Linked DNA regions of Homo sapiens. The protein of the gene in region 3 purifies or fractionates together with the protein of the main gene of each other region. This does not show direct contact. Each region holds a gene or a part of one and is shown on either strand. Other genes may lie near its edges.

Evidence for each region.
Region 1: the proteins of ZNF211 (region 3) and SMARCAD1 purify together in Homo sapiens (co-immunoprecipitation; 3 studies listed by BioGRID and IntAct, with this or other methods). This does not show direct contact.
Region 2: the proteins of ZNF211 (region 3) and NT5DC3 purify together in Homo sapiens (affinity purification with mass spectrometry; 2 studies listed by BioGRID and IntAct, with this or other methods). This does not show direct contact.
Region 4: the proteins of ZNF211 (region 3) and USP34 purify together in Homo sapiens (co-immunoprecipitation; 2 studies listed by BioGRID and IntAct, with this or other methods). This does not show direct contact.

What each region holds. Positions count from the first base shown.
Region 1 is NC_000004.12:94,287,865-94,291,839, forward strand, and holds the end of SMARCAD1 (SWI/SNF-related matrix-associated actin-dependent regulator of chromatin subfamily A containing DEAD/H box 1), read left to right. Parts: intron 1-1,608; coding exon 1,609-1,670; 3' UTR 1,671-3,428; downstream 3,429-3,975. UniProt on the Homo sapiens protein: DNA helicase that possesses intrinsic ATP-dependent nucleosome-remodeling activity and is both required for DNA repair and heterochromatin organization.
Region 2 is NC_000012.12:103,775,235-103,782,234, reverse strand, and holds part of NT5DC3 (5'-nucleotidase domain-containing protein 3), read left to right. Parts: intron 1-1,870; coding exon 1,871-1,935; intron 1,936-4,153; coding exon 4,154-4,406; 3' UTR 4,407-7,000.
Region 3 is NC_000019.10:57,629,012-57,636,185, reverse strand, and holds the start of ZNF211 (zinc finger protein 211), read right to left. Parts: upstream 3,019-7,174; 5' UTR 2,840-3,018; coding exon 2,750-2,839; intron 2,474-2,749; exon of another isoform or gene 2,281-2,473; intron 2,164-2,280; coding exon 2,125-2,163; intron 1,558-2,124; coding exon 1,431-1,557; intron 1,369-1,430; coding exon of another isoform or gene 1,248-1,368; intron 1-1,247.
Region 4 is NC_000002.12:61,468,055-61,475,457, reverse strand, and holds the start of USP34 (ubiquitin carboxyl-terminal hydrolase 34), read left to right. Parts: upstream 1-4,370; 5' UTR 4,371-4,765; coding exon 4,766-4,808; intron 4,809-7,403. UniProt on the Homo sapiens protein: Ubiquitin hydrolase that can remove conjugated ubiquitin from AXIN1 and AXIN2, thereby acting as a regulator of Wnt signaling pathway.

The DNA.
Region 1 (3,975 bases), on a different chromosome or scaffold from region 3:
AAGCAGTGGCTGGGCGTGTGGTTCATGCTTATAATGCCAGCACTTGGGGAGACAGGCGGGAGGATCGTTTGAGCCCAGGAGTTCAAAACCAGCCTGGGCAACATAGCAAGACTCCATCTCTATTAAAATATATATATATTTTTTTAATTGTTGAAAGTATAGTATGAATGAAAAATACAGCGATTTAACAGTTGTGACATTTGCAGTGTTTGTTTTTTCTACTTCTTTTTTCCCATTGATCCATAATAAAGTCAATTGTAAACATGGCAATTTATTTTCAATATCACAGCATATTCCTCAAAGTTGGTACAATACCATTGTAGCATCTAAGAAAATAAACAGTAATTTTCAGACATTATCATATATTATTCATATCCAGATTTCTCTCATTTGTCCCCTTAATGTCTTTTATAGCTTTCCTTAAAACACTAGGGTCCAAAGTTCACACACAGCATTTTATTGTATTCTGTCTTTAGTATCTTCAAGTTTAAAAGAATCTCCTTATTCTTTTCCTTCTTTTCTCTTCTCCCTGCATTCTTCCTAACATAGTATCAGTTTATATAGTAATTTATGAAGTGTCAATTTGGATTTTATGGGCTATTTTCAAGTCTGTGGATGAGCTTGGAAGCAAGGATGTCAGTGAACTGACATCCCTAAGAGTTGATGTACTATTTTGTGTTCCTGTGGATATATGTGTTTTGTTTTGTTTTTTGTTTTTTTAACAGAGAAAAGAAGAGTGGATGAAAGTACTCATAATTTTAGATTATAGCTGAGGTGTATATTTGTGAGAGAGGGGAGGAGGAGAGAAGTGGTTAGTTTTGCTACATTTCAGCCACATCTAATTTATAAAATTATTCATAGTTACAGATCTATCACAGATCAGCAAATATTTGAATTGCCACCTGTGCTGTTGTCACTAACTAGTAAATTAATCAACTCATCTCAAAATATTCTCAGTGCTAAATTGAATTAATCAGGGATGGCTAGATTATCTGCCACTGTGACACAAAGAGATTTAGAAAATCTCAAATAATTCCTGTAAGTGCTTATACTGGGGCCTCATTTAATTAAAATATAGGGCAAACATTGGATAAACCAGGTAATTTAAAGTGGCTAATTTAATCATCAGCTGGTATGCTGTGCTCAGAATGTTGTTTATATGTATACAGTGTGGGTCTGAGTCAGTGATTATATCTTTAGATGAAAAATAAGAATATAGATTGGTTTTCGTTGGTTTAGGTTTGGGTTTGTTATCCTTGTTTTCCCTACTCCATTTCTTACATAAATGTTTTTTATTTAGCAAATGTGAGAAGTTAAGTACCATGAATTAGATACGATCCAGTGTATTACCGTGTATTTTTATATAGCTTTATAAAATTGGAAAAATAACCTTAGATTGCTATGTTGGCAATATGAACAAGAACATAGAGGAAATAGCCCTAATCTAAGTAGAGCTTAGGAAAGTTTTTAACAGGGGTGAGTGACACTGAAGCAAACTAGCCCTTGAAAGATGAGTAAGAATTCACCAAAGAAAAAAAATAATTGAGACAATTTTTTTTTAAGTAAAATATTTTTATAAAGCTTTTAATGCTACTTTCTGACCTACAGGTGATGAAGGGAGTATGCCAGCAGATATAGCCACATTACTAAAAACATCAATGGGCCTGTGAAATAAGAACTGTGAACTCTCAATTGATGAGGAAATATCAACTTGGTGCACTCAAGGACATTTACATTATGATGACCATGGGGTTTATGAACATTTATAACTTTTTATAATTTCCATATTACATTTCTCATAGTATGGACAACTTTTTGCCACTAACTGAATTCTCCAAATACTCACACGTGAAATTTCAAAAAAGAAGCCACAAATATGTAGTTCTGAAGATGTTGAATAATCATTTTACAAAGCAGTTTTCTGAATGGGGATTAGTTGGTGATTGTTTGTAACAAATATGCTAATGCTTTAGAAATGTCAGTATTTTTGTAATTATTTCTACCTCCAAATATATATATATTGTCTTTCACTGGATAATGTGTGTAGATTTTTACATGTGCCTTATTTGACAATGCTTATGTCTTGTTTTTGCTTGTCTCATTTGAAGTTCTTTTTTATTATGTTAAAGAATGCAGCTGTATAGATTATATAGCTTTCATTTTATTGCTATTTGAAGCAGATGTTCACCAATGTCAGCAAGAACTCAACCTGAATTTAAAGGTGGCATTCCATATACTAACATCCCCCAGGTCCTCTCAAGTACTTCTGCTGAAACAAATTTATTTGGCTAGGCACTAAGTTGTTTTCCAGTGAATAGTAACTAAAGAAGCCCCTACCTTGCTCCATGGATTAATTCCTTCTGTTCATTTTCCAACTGCACTAATTGTGCATATTACTCTGCCTAATCTTGTGCATGTTTTCATTGATTTCCCTCTCCCGGCTTTTGCTTCTCTTGAAACTGTTGCCCAGTCACTTCTGCTCCAATTCTCTTCCTCTCTAAATAGTAGTTTATTACTGCCACATCTCCATGCATCAGCAAAATGTTGGTGACATTTTTCTAGCCTGGCAGAACAGATTACTTAAAGCTATTTCATTTCAAAGCAGACTGAATGTGACTTCATCTAAAGGCAGCATTAGGTACTGCATGGAAATAGGTCATTAACTTGAAACTCTTATCAAAATATATTTTACCAGTTTCCAGAATTTCCAGTACAGGACCGCCTGAAGAGAGAGCCATTGTTCAATTCCAATTCAGTGTGAGTGACAAAGTGAAATTTAGAAGTGAAGTTGTCTATTTGATATTTAACTCTTTATTAAATCTTTCTTTAAATTTCTGCCTGTCAGTCTATATTGCTGTTTTTATTATACATCAGTTTCTTTGTATAACTTGTGAGTTCCATGTGTTTTGTTTTTATTATGTAAATATCATTATAAATAAACTTATTTATAAATCAAAGATTTGTTAATTTTTGGAAATCATGCTTTTCAAAGCATCCTAACTTGCTAAGATGCTAGGTAGTACGACCCTCTGGATTTGGAAGGCAAATAAAACTCTTACAGTGATTATTTAGATATTAAAGACTGAGAACTCACGGCTTAACCCCAGTCTTGATGGTATATTGAACAGACTGAATATATTTTACCATTACAGGGCTAAAAGGAGTCTTCATGTGTTAATACTACCTCCTTGTACATCACTATACCCAAATCAGTTATTCAAATTGTTAGGAATTTTACCTTTTAAAATCTCATAATGGATATCTCATGTTTTCTGTATTAATGTATTTTCAATGATAGGCTGTTTCTTTTTTTGTTGTTATTGTTGTTGTTGTTATATCCATACTTTTATCTCTAATGAAATGTAGTTGGGTTCTTCCTGTAATGCGCTATTATGTCTTGGGCTTAATAAAAATATTTGTGATCATAAGTTGTATTTTCACACCCTTTTTAATAGTTTCTAACCCTTCCTCCTCCTACCCTTAAAATCATATAATATTGGGCACAAATGAGATTATCTTATGTGCTTAATATTGCCTGTTTGCCAGTAAATTGGAACTTACTACTTAGGATGTATTCTCATTGGTTCCTTCATTGGACTGATGTCAGTAAATACTGTAACCCATTATCACTACAGAGCAAATGAAGCGAGAGTTGGAGTAATATCTTGACCAACTGAAGCATTTTTTAAATGCAAGCTACACAAAGAAGACATGCCTTATGCATTTTTATAACTGTTTGGGACCCCCATAGAGTTTTAACTTTATGCCAGTAGATACTTACTTTGAAACATTACTGTAGTTCCTAACAGTTGGCATTATCGTGTAGTGGAGAGACGGGGTATGAGGAGATTTGGTTTCCATTTGTGTGACCTTACGTGTGATACTTCACAGTCCATAAATTTAAGGAATTCGGATTGTTTTAACTCTTACCAAAAATGTATTTTTGAAATTATAAATTCAATATGCAGTTCACTT
Region 2 (7,000 bases), on a different chromosome or scaffold from region 3:
AGCATGCCCAGCTAATTTTTGTATTTTTGAAGAGACTGGGTTTCACCATGTTGGCCGGGCTGGTCTCGAACTCCTGGCCTCAAGTGATCCACCTGCCTTGGCCTCCCAAAATGCTGGGATTATAGGCGTGAGCTACCACGCCCAGCCTGTCATGAAATTATTCTTCTTTTGAGTTTTTTTTCCCCCAACCATTGAAAAAGAAAAACCCATTTGTAAGCTTATAGGCTGATAGAAAAATGGGCCGGTGGCTGGACTGATGTAGGCTATTGCACTGGCTAGATTGTAATATCTTTCTCAAACAAGGGCAAAGATATGTAGCCAATCTGTTTTGCCCCTAAAGAGCTGATTATGCCCATGAACAACCACTGGAGATGGAGATGGCTGAAGTGCCTGTAGGATCAGTTCTCTGTGGGGCTTCGGTTAGTCTTTTCCAATGTTAAGTACCCACTCTAGAGTGCATGGTTTCACTTGAAAGATTAATGATAGCTAATGAACACACACTGTCTTTGAAATATTTTAAAGTGGATTTCAGAACCAGAGGCTCTTGTTTTATGGAGTTTGGCCTTGTAGGGGGACAGAGCTGGAGAAAGGGGGTTGGGCACCAGGAGAAATCTTCTTTTTTCAATGGGAGAGACTTGAGCATGTTTAATGGCTGATGGGAAGGATGCAGGCGAGAGGGCTGTTCCTATGAGAGAGATGATAAATGGTGGGAAAGGTTCATGGCAGGGCAGCCAGCAGGGCGCCCCAGCCAGCTGCTGGGTGCTTCGTGGGAGGTAAGGCCCGAAGGGTGGCCGAGTGAAGGCGCAGAGCTCAGGGTCCCCCTCTGGGCATGCGTCCCTGGCCTCTGATTCCTGGGGTCTTTCTCCTTTACATGTCCCTTCAACAGCCTCAGGGTTCAGAGTCAAGCTGTTGAACTGGGCAGATGTGATAAACAGAAGGTTCTTGGCTCCCATGTCAAAAGCAGATGGTTTGCCCGCTTGGTGTTTTCCTCCAGGTTCTAAGGTTACCCCTGTGGTCATGAATTGCAGGGAGCTGGCCTGTTCCCTGCGATCATGTGCACCTTGGATTCTGGCCTCAGTGTTTCTGTTTAGCCATAAGAACCTTGGAGAGGGACTTGTGAGATTCCATTTGTTAGATCATGGGCAATTGGCATTTTCTTTTTGCCTTTCGCCCATATTTTGGCCCACCAGAAAATGCTCTGCTCTTCCTTCTCATTGAGGTGATTTGCCTTCTTGCCTTTTGCAAAAAAATAATTGTTTTTTTAAATTAAACACTTAATATAATATTAAATTAAAAGGTTTATTTATAATTCTACTACCCCTGTACAAATTAAAACAAATTTTTATGTTAATTTCCAAATGTAAGCACATACTTTGACATGCTTGCAATTGGTGGGTATATACGCCATTTCTACTTAACTATAACGTTTGTACACATGTATATAATATGTATAATAGGTAGCATGTACTAAGTATTTGTACATTATAGTTTGTACACATGTATATAATATATGTGTAATGGATGTATCATGTGCATAATGGATATATCACATACATGTGTTATACATACATGGATACACATGCATTATGTTTATATGTAATCTTTACTGATAGGTTAATAACTTCATAATACATCTTAATTTGTTAAACCACATTTCTAATGTTGGACATTTAAAACAATTTTTTATTCATGAAGAAGGCAGGGTTTCAACTGGAAGGTCTGAAAAATGTATTATTTCATTCAGGTGCCAGCCTCTGAGATGTAAGGGAATAAAATTTCTCCTAGAAAAACTGCTCATTAAAAAATTCTCATTACGTAATGAGCTTATTTGAAATCAAAACAGTTGTAATAATTGACTTGTGTCCTACAGGTTCACAGAGATGCTGAGTCACAGCTGGTTTTGCAGGAGTGGAAAAAGGAAAGGAAGGAGATGCGGTAAGAGAGGCCTGTATTGAATGTGCGCGTCCACCACCCTGTTCTGGCTGTGCTCAGCCCACATGTGTTCCCCAGGGCCAGCCTGAGGCATAATGTTGAAACATCCTATTTTAGCTCCCAGGTATGTCTGCCTCCCCCAGGATCCAGAATCAGCTACCTGCTGTTGGTAACATGTGACAAATTTCCTTGAGGCCAGCCATCACCCCTGTCATTCCTCCGCCCTTGCCATCGAAGGCCTTTGGAGAACGGAGCCTTCCCATCTCATTCCTCCTTCCTGCCTGCCTGACCTTCCCATCTGGGCAGCTGGTGGGCCAGTTGTTAATAATGCTGGCAGCACCATGTGGCTACTGGGCAGCACTGGATTTGGGCTCTGAACCCTCAATGAATTCTTAGGGCTCCTACGACCCTGGTGCTTATTTGTAACCACAGCTATTTCAAGAATGTGCAATCAGTAAGCAGGATGTTAACTGATAAAGAAAGCCTGCCTGCCATAAGAAAAGTTTGGTGGGTGTCTGTCTTAAGGGAACCCATACTGACAATCATGCTTCCCTAGAAGGATGCTTTATACCACTTGCATGAACTTTTCTGACTTTGTGCATGGCTTTCTTCAGCCGCTGGGTATAGCCGTCTCTGAGCTTTGGAAACAGTGGTTACTGTGGGATTCTGGCCTCTCAGCAGTGGGCAGCCTGACTCCAGGGTTCATGTGGTGGTGTGCGTGGGTGGGTGGATGGGGCATGGAGAGGGGGCAGTGAGTCCATTCCTCAGATTCTGCAGAAGCCAAAGCTGTATTGCATTTAGTTTGTCCTCCTCCCTCTCAGAGTGTTGGCTGTCTGAGTCTTATTCTAACTGCTACCAACTAACTAGTGGCTTTTATCACACAGCTGTGTAAATGATTATATTTTTTGCTGTGTTTGTAAATGACTTATTAGCAGTCAAATAGAATTCATTCATTTTAATGGAATACTCTGTGTGTAGGGTCCCAGCCATCAGAGAGAGTGCACATCCTGTGTTTGTATGATAGGGATGTTGATATAGATATACATGCCCGTAAGGATGACTGCAGGGGGTTATGGGGCTTGGATGGGGTGAACAGCCTCACTTCCGAGGAGGCTGGGAGGCATTGAAGTATGTAATGGTTGGGGGAGATTTACATCACATAAAACAATCTTTAATTCCTCCATCTGAGCACTTGAGAGTTTACAACATGCTTTTATTTTGCTTACCTTACTCAGTTCTCACAATAACCTTGTAAAACGGGGTCTTGATCCTTTCGGTAAGGGAAGTGGAGCCTCCTGAGAGCATTCCGTATTCCTCTGTGTACCATCGGGAGCAGCTGTTGCATCCTGTGTTTAGGTTTGGGAGATGGGGCGTGTGTATTTAGAGAAGCTTGCAAAAGAATCTGGAGCCTTGAGACAGTTAAGGGGGAAATGTGACCAGAGTCGTTTTGATGGATGGATAGGCAGGCTGTTTTCTTTTCTTTTCTTTTCTTTTTTTGAGATAGGGTCTCATTCTGTCACCCAGGCTGGAGTGCAGTGGCACAGTCACAGCTCACTGCAGCCTCAACCACCCAGGCTCAAGTGATTCTCCGACTTCAGCCTCCTGAGTAGCTGGAACTACAGACATATGCCACCATGCCTGGTCAAATTTTTTGCATTTTTGTAGAGACAAGGTCTCACTATGTTGCCCATGCTGGTGGGCCAGGGCGCAAGTGATCCACCTGCCATGCCCAGGCCAGACTGTTTTTTTTGTTTGTTTGTTTTTGTTTTTGTGAGACGGAGTTTCGCTCTGTTGCCCAGGCTGGAGTGCAGTGGCATGATCTCTGCTTACTGCACCCTCTGCCTCCCTGGTTCAAATGATTCTTGTGCCTCAGCCTCCTGTGTAGCTGGGATTACAGGTGTGCGCCACCACGCCTGGCCAATTTTTGTATTTTTAATAGAGACGGGGTTTCACCATGTTGGCCAGGCTGGTCTCGAACTCCTGGCCTCAAGTGATCTGCCTGCCTTGGCCTCCCCAAGTGCTGGGATTACAGATGTGAGCCACCACACCTGGCTCTAGGCTGTTTTCTTAATTAATATTTGGGGCTGCTCTAGGCTAACATGTTTCTCAAATGAGTCCTATTTTTTTTTTTTAAAAAAAGAAGTGATTTTGATTTCAGTAGTTTAAAAACAAGGATTTTTGAATCATTCTCTGTTGCTTTGCTTTTTTATTGCCTCTTCAGAGAAATGACCAAGAGTTTCTTCAATGCCCAGTTTGGAAGCCTGTTCCGCACAGACCAGAACCCAACCTACTTCCTAAGGCGCCTGTCGCGCTTCGCTGACATCTACATGGCGTCTCTGAGCTGCCTCCTGAACTATGACGTCAGCCACACTTTCTACCCCCGGAGGACTCCACTGCAGCACGAACTGCCCGCCTGGTCAGAAAGGCCCCCCACCTTCGGAACCCCTCTCCTGCAGGAGGCCCAGGCCAAGTAGCCAAGGGCAAAAACTAGAAACTGTAACTGCCCCTGATTGGGCAGGCATGATGGGGTTGACTTCATGTGGGTCTGAGTGTTGCTTTTGGAAAAGATACAGATAAGCCTTTTGATATTTATTTTGTACCTTACGGAGAATAATTCTCCCAATGGTTAAGACAGGAGCTAGCAGCCCACCCCTCCAGCCTTTCCCCCCATGCAGGGCTGAAAGGCAAGCTTCACATTGGAACTCTGATTTTGCCTTTTTGTTTACTGAGGTCCTGGAACATCAGGTTTCCTGGGATAGGTGAGACCACTTGATGCCATGTCTGTATTCTAGCAGGTCAAGCTTGAAACGGTTCTTGACTCCTCCATGGAACATTTCCTGAACATTTACGGGCTATGCATTGGGAACTGCAGGGGCACAGTGATGGGCAAAGATTAGCTGCTTCCAGAAGGCTGATTTCGTGGGCTCCACAATGGTAAAACGCTGCTGTGAGTGGCAGAGAGGTTCCCCAGGTGATGGCCAGTTCCCAAATCATTTGGTACTAAGGCTTTGACATTCTGGCACATCACATCAAATAGAACACAGCCTCCCTGGAAGGACTTAAGTGAGAAAGAACAAGAGAAGCTGCAACTCCTGGACCCTTTTGTCCTCAGTGTGTGGTTCCTGCGTCCTTCCCCAGCATGGAGGAGGGCAGGAGAGAGGAGATGAGAGCTCTGGTCAAAACCTGCCAGCTAGTGGAACAGCCTTCTGTAGAGCCTTCTGCAAGAAACGAGTGGGTTTGAAGAACCAAAACATTTGTGGTAGGTCTCCCAGGAGCTTGTTAAACCTGGAAACACCACCTGAGTTGGTTTCATCTGCTCATTGGAAGAAAGAAAATGAACCAGGAAAAAGCATCTTTGTCATGAAATGCTATGCCATGCCACCCACCCAGTTGAATTGGAATCCTGTTAAAACATGAGATTTACCAGAAACAGTCCTTTGTCTAGATGGAAACAAACAAGATCCTGGCTTCTCTCTAATGAGTTACCAACTGAGAGGTGCTTGGATTGGCCAGGGGAGGAGGAAGATGGCCACCACAACTTAGCCATGTCCAGCCTTCTCTTAGATTTCACTCCTGTGATGTTTGTGCGACTATTTGGGAGTTTGTGTAGTTTGTTTTTTTTTTTTTTGTTTTGTTTTGTTTTTTTTTAGATGTCTAAGATGGGAAAGGGCGAAGGACATTGAAGCTAAGGAATAGATATGACCTAGCTAACCAAGCTTTTCTCATTTCCTTCTGTTTTGTTTTGTTGAGATGGAGTTTTGCTCTTATTGCCCAGGCTGGAGTGCAGTGGCACAATCTCAGCTCACTGCAACCTCTGCCTCCCGGGTTCAAGCGATTCTCCTGCCTCAGCCTCCCAAGTAGCTGGGATTACAGGCATGCACTACCACACCCAGCTAATTTTGTATTTCTAGTAGAGATGGGGTTTCTCCATGTTGGTCAGGCTGGTCTCGAACTCCCGACCTCAGATAATCTGCCCGCCTTGGCCTCCCAAATTGCTGGGATTACAGGTGTGAGCCACCGCACCTGGCCTGCTTTTTTCATTTCTTTCTAGGGGCAATGCAAGTGGCATGTATTCCTTTTGTTGGAGGGAAGAATCCTTAATTGCACCTGCATTTGTAGTATCCTTCAATGTAAAGTGCATATTTACTGCACTCTCTGAGTGCTATGGGAATGTCTGCTGTTATTAGTTATGGGGCTGCTAATACTGTTTTAATTGCATATGCTATATCAATACTTCTGTTCAGATTAGCCTAATCTAGTATTGCTAAAACTCATTTTAAGCTTTTGCGGTAACTTGTATATATTCTTAAATCTAAAGGATGGCAGGAACATGAGGGGAGCTTGTGGAGAGTGCTTGCTTATTCAACATTTTTATTGTGATAAATGTATGTAACCATCTATTGATGAAATCCAAGTCTGGCATTCCATGGGCTCCTTGCCAGATGGCAGAAACTTAATGAGTTATATAGCATCCTTTGTAATGCTGCTTGTTATAGTTGGAATGTACTTGTGATATTTGGCTGTATTTAACTATAATGGTGAAGGTGACCCTTTAGATCCAATAAGGCTTCTCCCCATCTTCTACATTTTGTTATGAACACAGTAAGGCACAGTAGTATGTTCTTTTTTTGGAACAGGGTAGGCATTTTGTTTATTGTTTGCTTGCTTCTAGGTGTTTTCGCCATCAGGGTGTATTGGAGGCTGACACTTAATGGGTGTGTGTTGCGCCCAGAACTGCTCGGTGTCGGGGTTCTAAAAGAATGCGCTGGTGTTCTTGGCTTCAAGTTTCTGCTTTGGAGAAGCAGATTCAGGAAGTAGGTGTTGCTTAAAAATAATTCTTGGTTTTTATCTAATCAGATATTCATTGATTACCTACCAGGTGCCAGTTATAGGGTGTTTTGTTTACTCAAGAATGAAGTAGAACTATTTTTAAAACCTGTTTCCATGAGTGTTCACGTTAGGTGACCTAAGCTTTGAAGGAGAAAAACATTTTTGGGTATGAATAATGAGTTTTGTAATCAATTCCCAGTTAGAAGAATTTCAGTCTCTGGGCCATTGAGCTTGGCAG
Region 3 (7,174 bases):
GAATAAGAGAAAACATTTGCAAATCACATATCTGATAAGGGAATATCTAGAACACACAGATAACCCTTAAAGCTCAATAAAAAATTATATTTAATACTTCTAATTATAATTAATAAAACCTAATTTAAAAATAGGCAAAGGACTTGAATAAGCAATATCATTTGAAGATATACAAATAGCCAATCAGCACATGAATAGATGCTCAATATCAGTAATCTGCAAATCACAACCACAGTGAGATATCACCTCACACCAATTTGGATGACTTATCAAAAAAATCAGAAAATAACAAGTGATGGTGAGGGTGTGAAGAAACTGGAACCTTTGTCAGCTGCTTGTGGGAATGTAAAATGGTGCAGCTGCTATGAAAAACAATTTTAGTGGTTCCTTAAAAATTAAAAATAATTACCTTATGATCCAGAAATTCTACTTTTGGGCCAATACCCAAAAGAATTGAAAGCAAGGACACAAATACGTATCTGTACACCCATGTTCACAGTAATATTATTCACAACAGCCAGAAGGTGAAAACAACCTGTGTCCACTGATGAAGGAATGGATAAACAAACTGTAATACATACAAAAGAATATTATTCAGCCTTAAAAAGAAGCAATTCTGATATATATTACAACATGGATGAATCTTGAAGATATTATGCTAAGTGAAGTAAGCCAGATAGAAAAGAACAAATATTGTGTGATCCCACTCATATGAGGTACTTACAGTAGACAAATTCATACAGACCAAAAGTAAAATGGTGGTTGCCAGGGGATGGGAAGAGTTATTATTTAATGAGTACAAAGTTTCAGTTTTATAAGATGAAAAAGTACTATAGAAGGATGGTGGTGATGGTTGCACAATAATGCGAATGTACTAAATGCGCTGAACTATATACTTGAAAATGATTAAAATGGTAAATTTTGTTATATATATTTTACAATTAAAAACAAAGAAAAACACCTTGAAGGAGGTTTCTATAAGAACAGTCTGTGTAATGTCTCTGCGGCACAATTTGTTAGAGTGTTCTGCTGTTAATGGAAAGGTTGGTGGTTGAAGAACAGTCTGTGTAAATAGTGGCAATGTCAGTGACTACATTTCATGTCACAGTCTAGCACAAATAAATGTTAGGTACACGAAGGGAGGGAAAACTGGGTGCCATAGATCTAGAAAGTCACCAGACAGGGAGAAGGCAAGTCAGGTGGGATCTATTAGGCTTACTGTAAGACTACTGATCCCAAATCCTTACCCAAGATGCTTTTGGGCTGGGACGATAAGGGAAGTAGGCTTGCACTCAGTCCACAACATCTACCCAGGGAACTGGGGAAGGAGGCAGTGCCTATAGTCCAGATATGAGGACAGAGCTGCTCCTGAGGAAAAGGAGAAACAGAGAGCCTAGTCCAGGGCACAAGGGTGAGTATGAGGGCCTTACCCAGGGAGGACGTAAGTGCAAAGTTCTCCAGCATCACATCGAAGTACAGGTGTTTCTGAGCCTCATCAAGGAGATCCCATTCCTCCCAGGAGAAGTACACGGCCACATCTTCAAAGGTCACACTTCCCTAGCATAATAGGGATTGATGAAACCATGAACAGTCTCAATTTGGAAGACTCAAAATCCATGTCCCCATACATTCTCCTCCCAAGATCCCCAAGTCAGAAGAGACACCAGACCTTGGTGTCATTGATCCCTGCTGTCTCTTCACATTCCCATTAGTCACTGTGTTCATTCTGTTTTCCACTCTGTATCCTGTCAACACTTGGGTTAGATAAATCTCCCTCCTCTGATCCCAAACTCCAACTTCCTCACAATAGATGCCAAACTTCACAGAAATAAAGGAAACCTGCAGTTCCCTGAACCAGCTCAGCCTCACCTCCAAGGAGTTCCAAAAGCTGGTACCTACCTGTTTCTATCATAAATTTTCACCCATCTTTCCATTGGCTGCTCCAAATGGAAACATTGGCCTGGACTCAGGGCCCTTAGCTCAGGGATTCTCCAGGGTTCCCAAACCAAACGCTGAGAGAATGGTAGGTGAGTCCCATGACACCACAAATCTAAAGAAAATATCTGTCTGGGGAGGGTGGAGGGACATTCCAGACCAGTGAGGGGCTGAGATACCTCCACTTACCTGTGTAAGTTTGAAAAGCACCTCTGTAGCTATGGGAACCTGTGGAAAGACGCAGGCCTCAGAGGAATGTGATCATGGCAGTGCTCCATGGGCACAGGCCTTCCCTGTACCCTTGCCCCGGCCCAGAGCCACGTAACTTTGGGTCGACTGTCTAACCTGTGCGCCTCGGTCCTTAGTGCTGCCTCTCACCAGTTGTGTGGCCTTGGAAAAATATTCAACCTCCCTCTGCCTCAACGTCCTCATCCATCTCTAAAGTCTTTTCTTCCACTGAACAGCCTGCAGAGGATTTTTCAAATTTAACTCAGATGGTGTCTCTCGTTTGCGCAAGCTCTCTATGGCTCCCACGGCCCTAAGAATAAAGGTAGATCTCTCTCAAACTTTGTTCCCTGCAGTAACAATGTGGAGCCCAGGTTCCTGAATGCCCCCTTCTCGGTTGCCCGTCCAAGCCCTGCACGCGCCGGTCCTGTCCCTTGTCCCCCTGCCCACCACATCGGATGTCAGAAATAGGGGCCCCACCCACGAGCCTCAGTGTCCCCGACCCTGTGCTACAGAGACGTGAGCTGGTGCCTCTCACTTGGGACTTAAGAATCTCGGCCGGGGGAGGCCCGGAGATCGCAGCGCTCACCGAAGCCGGGTCCCTCAGTGCGGTCGCCATCCGAGTCTGTGGGCGGAGCTGGACCGGGAGCTGCGGGCGACCCGGGGGGAACCCGAGCATCGCTATCCCCAGGCCGGCCTCGCGGGCGGCTCTGCCCCCGACCCTCAGACCTGACTCTCGCGCCTTCACGGTCCGTCACTTCGATCCCGATGCAGCGTACCAAAGCGGCTGACAGACAGAACGGACCTCCGGGAGGGCAGCCAAAATGACCGCTGCGAAGACGCCACAAGTCCCGCCCTGGGGGGGGCGGGGGTAGACCCACACGGAAATGCCCCTGTCTTGGATTTTCATTGGATCAAAGTACTGCCGCTCGACGCAAGGCTTTCTGGGTAATGTAGTCTCCCCCAGGCTGCGACGGAGGGCGCCTTGTGTGCAGACAGCTGGGAGCGCTAGGAAGCTGCGTCTGCTGCCTTCCAGGGCGACTGAGGGGCTTCGGTGTTTGAGGTCTTAAGTAGGTTGACACTTGAACAACACAGGTTTGAGCTGTGCGGGTCCATTTACACGTAGGCGTTTTTTTTCCCCAATAAACGTTACTTCGAGTGTGCTCCTTTTCCTGCCTCTTCCAGCTCCCCGACCTCTTGCCCCAGAGACAGCAAGACCTCATTCTCTTGCCCAGCATGAAGAACACAAGGATGAAGACCTTTATGATGATCCACTTCCACTTAATGATTAGTAAATGTATTTTCCCTTCCGTATTCTTTTATTTTCCTTTTTTTAATTGGGTGTAATGTCAACGAGCCTCTTACAATTTTCCTGATACCCTTTCTCTGGTCTGTTTTAGTACAAGTATAGTTCTTATACTAAAATATATATAATGCATATATCATACAAAATGCATATATCATATATATTATGCATATATCATGCATATATCATACAAAATGTGTTAATCGACTGGGAGTTTATGTAATTCATAAGGCTTCCGGGCAACTTCATAAGGCTTCCGGGCAACAGTTGGCTATTAGTAGTTAAGACCTAGGGGAGTCAAAAGTAATACAAGCATTTTCAATTCCGCAGGGGTCGGTATCCCTGACCCCTGCGTCGTTTAAGGGTCAGCTGTATATCAGTCTCTAGTGTAGAGGTTCACTTCAGTATTTAGACATCATTTCAGATTCCATGCAGCCCACCCCAGCAGATCTCCACTGGTAGTGGGAAGCGAAAAAACGTTATCTTATTGCTCTTCAAATGCATGCAGCCTGAAGTGTTAAAGTCACTTTTTGTAGGTTTTGTCAGGGACAAAAGACACCAGACAGGGCTACAATGGGAAGATAGTGGAGGGATAGTGGGCAGCCCTGAAGCCAACGGACAAGGGAAGTTCCCTGCTTCTGGTGCCCCCAGAAAACGCTCTCCTGCCTGCAAAGTCAGTTTTGTTCATAAAACATGAAGCTTTAATACATGAATGTTCATTTTCCTTGTATAATCAAAACATTTAATTTTTTTTTGAGACAGGGTCTCACTCTGTTGTCCAGGCTGGAGTACAGTGGAACAATCATAGCTCATTGCAGCCTCCACTTCCTGGGCTCAAGTGATCCTCCCACCTCAGCCTCTTGAGTAGCTGGCACTACAAGCACACCACCACACCCGGCTAGTTAAAAAAAAAATTATTGTAGGAATGGAGTCTCCCTATAGGGCCCAGGCTAGTCTCAAACTCCTAGGGCCATGCAATCTTCTTGCCTCAGCCTCCCAAACTGCTGAGATTACAAGCATGAGTCACCATGCCCAGACAAAAGTTTTTAATGCATAAAATATCAAATTATTATCATTATTTTAAACAGGGCCTCACTCCGTCGCCCAGAAAGTTTATATTATTTTAAGGTACATATATGCACATTGTTAAATGTACACATATACATTTTATATATATTAGATAGATCAAATTTTACGTTTCACAATAAAAATGATCCTTTAGGACAAATTAATACCAGTAAAATAAAATAAAATTAAAAGTTGTGAAATGATTTTATCAAATATATAATGTATTTGTTTACACATTTACTACAAAAATTTATAAGTGGAATGACTACTATTGTACATCTGGTTAGATCTCACAATGGGCTTGTCATTGTTTTTAGGAAAAAGGTTAGAGTTCTTGGCTGGGCCTATATTACAGAACCAACCATTACATATTGCTTCACCTCCTACCATGTATCTCCTCTATATCCTACACATGCTGAATTTCCTCAGATCCCTGAAAGCTGTGTGTGCATTCACATGCAGGGATCTTTCCAGGTTACCTTTTTCCTACCTGAGACTGCTGAATCCTATTGTGCTTTAAAAATTCATACTTTCAGGTAATCAACTGAGAAACTAGTGAAAAATGACATAACTGGCTGGGCACAGTGGCTCACACCTGTAATCCCAGCAGGTGTGATTGCTGCTCCCACCTTGGGAGGCCGAGGTGGGCGAATCACCTAAGGTCAGGAGTTCAAGACCAGCCTGGCCAACATGGTGAAACCCCGTCTCCATTAAAAATTCCAAAATTAGTCGGGCGTGGTGGTGGCACCTGTAATCCCAGTTACTCGGGAGGCCGAGGCAGGAGAATCAGAATCACTTGAACCTGGGAAGTGAAGGTTGCAGTGAGTCGAGATCGTACCACTGCACTCCAGCCTGGGTGACAGAGCAAGACTCCAAAAAAAAAAAAAAAAAAAGGACACAACTCTTTATGTCCAAATTCAATGTTTCCATCCATTGCACGTACTCAAAACTTCCCAGTACTCCTCATGAGGTAATGAAGCATAGGTTAAGTAAGTTTTGTATAATTGTGTAAATTTTTCAGGGCCGGGCTTGGTGGCTCATGCCTGTAATCCCAGCACTTTGGGAGGCTGAGGCAGGCAGATCACAAGGTCAAGAGATCAAGACCATCCTGGCCAACATGGTGAAACCCTGTCTCTACTAAAAAATACAAAAATTACCTGGGCGTGGTGGCGCATGCCTGTAGTCCCAGCTACTTGGGAGGCTGAGGCAGGAGAATCGCTTGAACCCAGGAGGTGGAGGTTGCAGTAAGCCGAGATCATGCCACGACACTCCAGCCTAGTGACAGTGTGAGACTCCGTCTCAAAAAAAAAAAAAAGAAAAAAAAGAAACATCTTAATTAAAAAACGAAATGGGCAAAGACTTTAGGTTTAGATACCTCACCAGAGAAGATACACAGATGGCAAATAAGTGTATGAAAAGATAATCCCCATCATATGTCATCAGGGAAGTAAAAATTAAAACAGCACTGAGATACCACTACACATCTATTAGAATGAACAACCTCTGTAACACTGACAACTGCAAATGGTTGAGAAAATGTACAGCAACAGGAGCTCTCATTGCTGACGGGAATGCAAAGTTGTACAGCCACTTTGAAATGGAGTTTGGTGGTTTCTTACAAAACTAAACACACTTTTACCATACAATACGGTAACCATATTTTTCAGAATTTATCCATATGAGTGGAAAATTTATGTCCACACAAAAACCTGTACATGTGTGTGTATAGCAGTTTTATCCAAAATTGGCATACTTTGGAAGCAACAAAAATGTCCCTCAGTAAGTGAATGGATTAGAAACTGTAGTATATCGCCAGGCGTGGTGGCTCACGTCTGTAATCCCAGCACTTTGGGAGGCCGAGGTGGGCGGATCATGAGGTCAGGAGATCGAGACCATCCTGGCTAACACGGTGAAACCCCCGTCTCTACTAAAAATACAAAAAAAAAAAAAAAAAAAAAAAATTAGCTGGGCATGGTGGCAGGCACCTGTAGTCCCAGCTGTTCGGGAGGCTGAGGCAGGAGAGTGGCGTGAACCCGGGAGGCGGAGGTTGCAGTGAGCCGAGATCACGCCACTGCACTCCAGCCTGGGCGACAGAGCGAGACTCCGTCTCAAAAAAAAAAAGAAACAAAGAAAGAAAAGAAACTGTAGTATATCTAGACAATGGAACATTACTCAATGCTGAAGGTAAATGAATCTTCAAGACGTGAAAAAACATGGAGGTACCTTGTATGCATACCACTAAATGAAAGAGGCCAATCTGAAAAGGCAATATACTGTATGATTCCAATTAATGACATTTGAGAAAAGGTAAAAGTATGAAAGAGTAAAAAGATCAGTGGTTGCTGGGGGTTTAGAAGGGTAGGAGGGATGAATTTGTGGAGCACAGAGGATTACTATTTTAGATGACACTCTAATAGTGGACACGTGTCATTGTACCTTTGTCCAAACACATAGAATGTACAACACTAAGAGTGAACCCTAAAGTAAAGTAGGGACTTTGGATGATAATGATGTGTCAGTGTAGGTTTATAATTGCTACAAATGTGCCACTGCGGTTGGGGTGAGGGGCGCTATGCTTATGTAGGTGCAGGGAGTATATGGAATATCTCTTTACCTTCCCCTTAATTTTACTGCAAACCT
Region 4 (7,403 bases), on a different chromosome or scaffold from region 3:
CAGTACATTCCAGGGTGAATGTTAGTTTGTGATAAAGTGCTCTGCTGTTCATTTGAGTTGTGGCAAATAATTTAACTGTCATAACTGGTCTTCAAAATGTTGATCAACAGTTATACACACTTGGCCGGGCGCGGTGGCTCACGCCTGTAATCACAGCACTTTAGGAGGCCGAGGCGGGCGGATCACCTGAGGGTGGGAGTTCGAGACCAGCCTGACCAACATGGAGAAACCCCATCTCTACTAAAAATACAAAAAAGTAGACAGGTGTGGTGGTGGCACCTGTAGTCCCAGCTACTCAGGAGGCTGAGGCAGGAGAATGGCCTGAACCCGGGAGGCGGAGCTGGCAGTGAGCGGAGATCACTCCACTGCACTCCAGCCTGGGCAAAAAAAGCGAGACTCAAAAAAAAAAAAAAAAAAAAAAAAGAGTATCTGTAATCAGTAGTTAGAAATGTGTTTGGTTACAAGTAACGAAAATCTGAAGAATGGCTTAAAGAAAAAGAACTTTTTTGAGGAGTCTTGCTCTGTCATCCAGGCTGGAGTGCAGTGGCAACTGCAGCTCACTGCAACCTCTGCCTCCCGGGTTCAAGGGATTCTCCTGCCTCAGCCTTCTGAGTGGCTGGGATTACAGGTGCCCTCCACCACAACCGGCTTTTTTTTTTTTTTGAGACGGAGTCTTGCTCTGTCGCCGAGGCTGGAGTGCACTGGTGCGATCTTGGCTCACTGCAACTTCTGCCTCCTGGGTTCAAGCAATTCTCTTGCCTCAGCCTCCCAAGTAGTTGGGACTATAGGCATGCGCCATCAAACCCGGCTAATTTTTGTATTTTTAGTAGAGACGAGGCTTCACTACGTTGGCCAGGCTGGTCTTGAACTCCTGACCTTGTGTTCTGCCCACCTCCCCCTCCCAAAGTGCTGGGAGTACAGGCGTGAGCCATTGCGCCCAGCCTAATTTTTGTATTTTTAGTAGAGATGGGTTTCATTACGTTGGCCAGGCCGGTCTCTAACTCCTGTCCTCAAGTGATCTGCCCTCCTTAGCCTCTCAAAGTTCTGGGAATACAGGTGTAGGCCACCATGCCCAGCCAAGAAAAATACATTTTATTTTTCTCACATAAGCAGTCTGAGCATAGACTGTTGTTCAAAGATGCATCAGGGATCCACACTTTATGATTCTGTTTTATCATTTTTTTTCGAGATGGAATTTTTTTTGCTCTTGTTGCCCAGGCTGGAGTGCAATGGCAGAATCTCGGCTCACTGCAACCTCCACCCCCGGGTTCAAGCAATTCTCCAGCCTCAGCCTCCCGAGTAGCTGGGATTACAAAGTGCCCGCCACCACACCCGGCTCATTTTTTATATTTTTAGAAGAGATGGGGTTTCAGCATGTAGGTAAGGCTGGTCTTGAACTCTGACCTCAGGTGATCCACCTGCCTCAGCCTCCCAAAGTGTTGGGATTACAGGCGTGAGCCACTGTGCCCGGCCTGTTTAATCAAATTTTTTAAACAATGAAATCGCAAATGGGGTAAAAGTTTTCATTGTTAAAAAAATTACAAGATGGGTATTACTTTGTGCATCAAGACCATGTTTCAGGCAGAAAGGGTTAAATGGTATGTTAGCTGAATTTGTCCCTCATCGTATTAGGAATTCTTTTGGGAATTCTTCCCAAAGAACCCATCCTGCAGATTTCTGCTTACATTTCTTTTTTTTTCCAGAGAGGGTCTCACTCTGTCACCCAGGCTAGACTGCAGTGGTATGACCACAGCTCACTGCAGTCTCAATCTCCTGGGCTCTAGTGATCCTCCCACCTCAGCCTCCCCAGTAGCTGGGATTACAGGTGTGCACCACCACATTCCACTAATTTTCTTATGTACTGGAGATGGACTTTTGCCATGTTGCCCAGGTTGATGTAGAACTCCCAGGCTCAAGCAATCCATCTGCCTTGGACTCTCAAAGTACTATGATTATAGTCGTGAGCCACCACGACCAGGTAATTTTTTTTTTTTTTTTTTGAGACGGAGTCTTGCTGTGTCGCCCAGGCTGGAGTGCAGTGGCGCGATCTCAGCTCACTGCAAGCTTTGCTCCCTGGGTTCATGCCATTCTCCTGCCTCAGCCTCCCAAGTAGCTGGGACTACAGGCGCCCACCACCATGCCTGGCTAATTTTTTGTATTTTTAGTAGAGACGGGGTTTCACCGTGTTAGCCAGGATGGTCTCAATCTCCTGATTTAGTGATCTTCTCGCCTCGGCCTCCCAAAGCGCTGGGATTACAGGCATGAACCACCATGCCTGGCCTTTTTTTTTTTTTTTTTTTATGAGACGGAGTTTCACTCTTATCCCAGGCTGGAGTGCAATGGCGCGATCTCGGCTCACCGCAACCCCTGCCTCCCGGGTTCAAGCGATTCTCCTGCCTCAGCCTCCTGAGTAGCTGGGATTACAGGCATGCACCACCATGCCTAATTTTGTATTTTTAGCAGAGATGAGCTTTGTCCATGTTGGTCAGGCCGGTCTAGAGCTCCCGACCTCAGGTGATTTGCTCACCTCAGCCTCCCTAAGTGCGGGATTTCAGGAGTGAGCCAACGCGCCCAGCCACCTTTTAAATTTTTGTAGACACAGGGCTCCCACTATGTTTCTCAGGATTGTTGCTTACCTTTTATCAGGAGGAACTCAATTATGTATGGCCAGCCCTAGAAAAGCCAGATCACCATGATGGTTGGTTTCAACTGCTACCTGAAAAAACGTGAGACCAGCACGTTGGCTCATACCTGTAATCCTAACATTTTGGGCCGGAGGATCAGTTGAGGCCAGGAGTTTGAGACCAGCCTGGGTAACATAGCAAGACCCTGTCCCTACTAAAAATAAAAAACAATTAGTTACGTGTGGTGGAGAGCGCCTGTAGCCCCAGCTACTAGGGAAGTGGGAGGATCCCTTGAGCCCATAAAGTGGAGGCTGTAGTGAACTGTGATCGCACCACTGCACTCTAACCTTGGCGACAGAGTGAGACTTTGTCTCAAAAAAAAAAAATTCAAATAAAAATAATTGGGGTTGTGTTGGCAGGGAAAAAAGGGATACGTGGGAATGTATGTTGAGTGGACAACGAATGTCTGCCTCAGGATCCAAAGTAAGTCTGCAAAAACCCAATTCTGTGAGAAAGACAAGGAAGAAGGGAAGATGATGGTAGAATAGAACTACAATCCTAAGGATCACCTGCTAGTGGGAAACAAAACGGGTTGGGCAGACTGTTTATAGTATCAACTTCAAGCAGCAGAAAGGCAAAGCATTTGGAACCAGGTGGTTCTGGCATGGAGAGATGGGCGTGCCATAACCTCCACAAAAGCTATCGAGAGAATGACTACAGAGCCTTGACAGACACTCTGGTTACCGTTCAGAGATTCTGTACACGATCTTTCGGACTTTGCAGTCACATGTCTATGTAAACACGTTGAACACAAAAATTAGCAAGCAAGGGGTAAGTGCCGGCGTGAGGAAAATTCCCTTACAAGCTTCAGCTGACTGCCCCCTTCACCTGTTCTTTATCTTAATATCCTTGTTATTCGCTCTCTGCTGAAGAAGATTTCTTGCTATTTCAGGTGGGGCTGATGGGCACATCGTGAGGGGCCCTCTTCCGTAAAAACGAGACGATGTCAGGCAAACACTCCTTACCCTGCCATTTCTAGTTACGTCAAGGATCTTACTGCTCCAGGACGGAGGACCTTCAAGGAACTGCAGGGTAGCGATAATCACCGATGCAGTTAAGCCGGGCCCTGGGCTGATTCACTCTCAGACCCCGGGGGGAGTGGCCCTTGCGCCCGAAAGAGGGCTACGGCGTAGACCCGGCCCGGCACCCAAGTTGACTCCTTGCTTCCCGTACCCCAAAAGCCTAAGCGCGGAAGAGGCCGGGGACACCAAAGAAACCCGCACCAACTCCCCGACCCAGGCCCTGGGGAAAAATGGCGAAGCCCAGGGGCGGGGGACAGGACGGAGCGAGTGACCTGGCGCTCCCCGGGCCTCAGAGCCCGTGGAGTGGGTCGTGGTGGGCGACGCCACGCAACCGCGACCCGTCCGTTGCCTCCGCCATCTTCTCCTACTCACCCGGACTCCCCCCGCGGCCGCGCTGGCTTCGCGTTTCCCTTCCGGCCGCTGACAGAGATCCGGGCTGGGCGGGGTGGGCGAGCGCGCGGAGGGGGTGGACCGAGGGCGGGGAGGCCGGACGGAAGAGGAAAGGGAGGGCGGCGAGCCGGCCACGGCGGGGTGTGGAGCGTGCGGCGTGTGTGCGGAGGGAGAGGTGGGGGGCGGAGGAGAGGCGAGAAAGGGAGGGAGGCGGAGGAATGAGAGCGCGAGGCGCCTCTCGTCCGCTCCTAAGCCCGGGCGGAAAGAGCCGAGCGCAGCCCGAGCGCTCTGTTAAAATGGCGGCGGCGTCGGCGGTGGCCGCGGCGTCTGGTCGGTGAAGTGACTCTGCTGCTTCTCTCCCCACCCGCCCCCTCCCCCCCTCTCCCCTCCCCCCGTCCTTCCCCCCCTTCCCCGCCGCCGGCGCCTCGGCGCCCCTCCGGCCTGCGCACCTCCCCTCGCTCCCCTCCTCTCCCCCTCCCGCTGCGGGGACCGCCGGCCCCCTCCCCCATTCTCTTGCTCCCCGCCCCGTCCCCGCCGCCGCCCGCCCTAGTCGCCTCCCCGCCCCGCCGGCCGGCCGGCCCCCTCCTCCGCCTCTCTCCCCTCCCCCCCGCCGGTCGGGATCAGTCAGTGTGATCCGAAGCGGGGGAGGGGGGGGGCGGCGGCCGAACGATGTGCGAGAACTGCGCAGACCTGGTGGAGGTGTTAAATGAAAGTAAGTAGCCGCGGTAGCGGCCTGTCGGGGTGCACGGTTTGGGGTCCTCGCGCAGCTCTCTGGCCTCCCCGGGCTGCCGCGGCCTGCGGGAGGCGACGGCCGGGCCGGGCGGCGTGCGGGCCTAGCGCCCCGGGAAGGTGCGCGGTGGCGCGGCCGCCGCGGCGCCTCGGGCCCAGCCCGGCCGGGTTACCTGGGCGCCCGAGAGGCGGCCGCCGCGGAGCTCCGGCTCGGCCTGGCCCGGGCGCTCTGGGCTCTCGGAAAGTTTCCTCATTACAGGTGTCAATTAATGAAGGCAGTAATGAACCCCTCGCCGCCTTCGCCTCCTTCGCCCTGCCGGGAAGGTGCGGGGAGGTGGGGTCGGAGGACGAGGCTTTCCTCCGCAGTCCAAATCCTCCGGCCGCCCTCTTTGATTTCCAGCGTGCTGCCGAGGCCTCTCTTACCTGCTAATTTTCATTAAACTCCCGGGAGCAGGGTGGTGGTTTTTCCCTCCCTTGCGGGTTTGTGGGTGTCTTAAACACTTCAGCCAGACCTTAAATAGCTGAAAACGAACTGTGATAGTGATGATTGGAACCTTCATACCTATTTTTAAAATAAATTTGTTAATGATGTTTCTTAGTGTAGCATTCACCGCTTTAATGGTACATTCTGTTAAGCAGAGCACTGTACTACACATACCATCCCGGGATAGTTATGGCCTATCTCTCTTGGAAGGAAAGGCCTTTTACCTGGTACTTTACTTTTTATTATTAAAAAGGGTACGTTGATCTTTTCTGGCCTTTTTATTTTATTCTCGACCCTTGCAAGATGGTATTTCAGCTTATAGAAGATATATTGCAAATCAACTACTTCTGGGCGTAAAGGCCTAGTTGGCAGAGGTGAATTAGATGAAGGGATCAATTTACAAAAAGTTGATTGTTGAAAAAATGCTCACTTATGAACAGTTTATGTGGGTTTTGGATTTGTATTCTGTTTGTGATATTTCCACAGACTTTCAGACTATCTAATTTTGTAATACAATTCGCTAAAACAGTTGATTTATAAAATGTACCATGGTATTTGTGTTTGACTGTCACTTTAATGACCAAAGACAATAATAAAAGTGGAAGGGTTCTAACTTAATTTCAACTCCGTATTTACTTCCTGATAGGTGGAATAGGCTTTTGCACATATTCCAACTAGAGGTTCCAGTATTTGTGTCACCCTAAATTATCCTAGAATTTTAAGATTATTTGTGTGTATTTTGAGATACTTTTATTTCTGGCGCAGGCGGTTTACGATATGATAAACTTAAATCCTCAATACTTACTGTGTTTTATATCTCACATACAAGTCGTGTGATTATGATTGTTACGCTCAACTTGGAAAGTTAATCGTTTTGCAATGTAATATGAGGAACAAGTACTTAATTTTGTTGGTGATTTTAAATATCTTTTTTTTTTCTTGAGACAGAGTTTTGCTCTTGTTGCCCAAGCTGGAGGGCAATGGCATGATCTCGGCTCACTGCAAACTCTGCCTCCCAGGTTCAAGCGATTCTCCTGCCTCAGCCTCCCAAGTAGCTGGAAATGTAGGTTCCCCACACCATGCCCGGCTGATTTTTGTATTTTTGGTAGAGACGGGGTTTCACCATGTTGGTCAGGCTGGTCTTGAGCTCCTGACCTTGTGATCCGCCTGCCTCGGCCTCCCAAAGTGCTGGGATTACAGGCGTGAGCCACTGCGCCTGGCTGATTTTAAAATATCTTAAACTTGGAAAATTTTAAACAAAACATCTAAAGAAAGTAAAGTTGGTTTATCTTTTGAAAAGAGGTGGCATCTTGATCATAATGAAAGGTCTTATTTAAGATTATCTGGGAAACCCCTAGAACTTTGGTTAGAAGCACTGAAAAATGCAGTGCATTTATGGAGTGTTAGAAATGTGGAGAATTGAAATAGAATTTAGCTTTTATTACCTTTAAGCAAATACAGTTAGTTCAACCAGCTTCTCAAAATCTGGTCATGTGCACCCTCTAAGAAACCTGTTCTAATGAACAAGTAAGGATTTTCTATTTGTGTGTAAGCCAGTGGACTCTAAAAATACTTAGTTTCTTAATATTGCCTTTGAGGCTCAATTTAAAAGTTTAACTCTTAAACAATAATCTCACAGTGATGCTTCCTTTTTAAAAAAATTTACGGCCAGGCGCAGTGGCTCACGCCTGTAATCCCAACACTTTGCGAGGCCAAGGTTGGCGGATCACCTGAGGTTGGGAGTTCAAGACCAGCCTGACTAACATGGAGAAACCCCGTCTCTACTCAAAATACAAAATTAGCTGAGCGTGGTGGCACATGCTTGTAATCCCAGCTACTGGGGAGGCTGACCAGGAGAATTGCTTGAACCCGGAGGCGGAGGTTGCAGTGAGCCGAGATTGTGCCATTGCACTCCAGCCTGGGCAACAAGAGCGAAACTTTGTCTCAAAAAACATTTTTTTTACTTCAACAATTACATGTGTAGTTTATACCACACTATTAAAAGTTGTTTTTTTTTCTGTAGTTCTTTGCTTATCCGTGGCTATGATGGAGCATGATAATGAACATGAGTGGTTGGAGCTTGATAAAACTTGT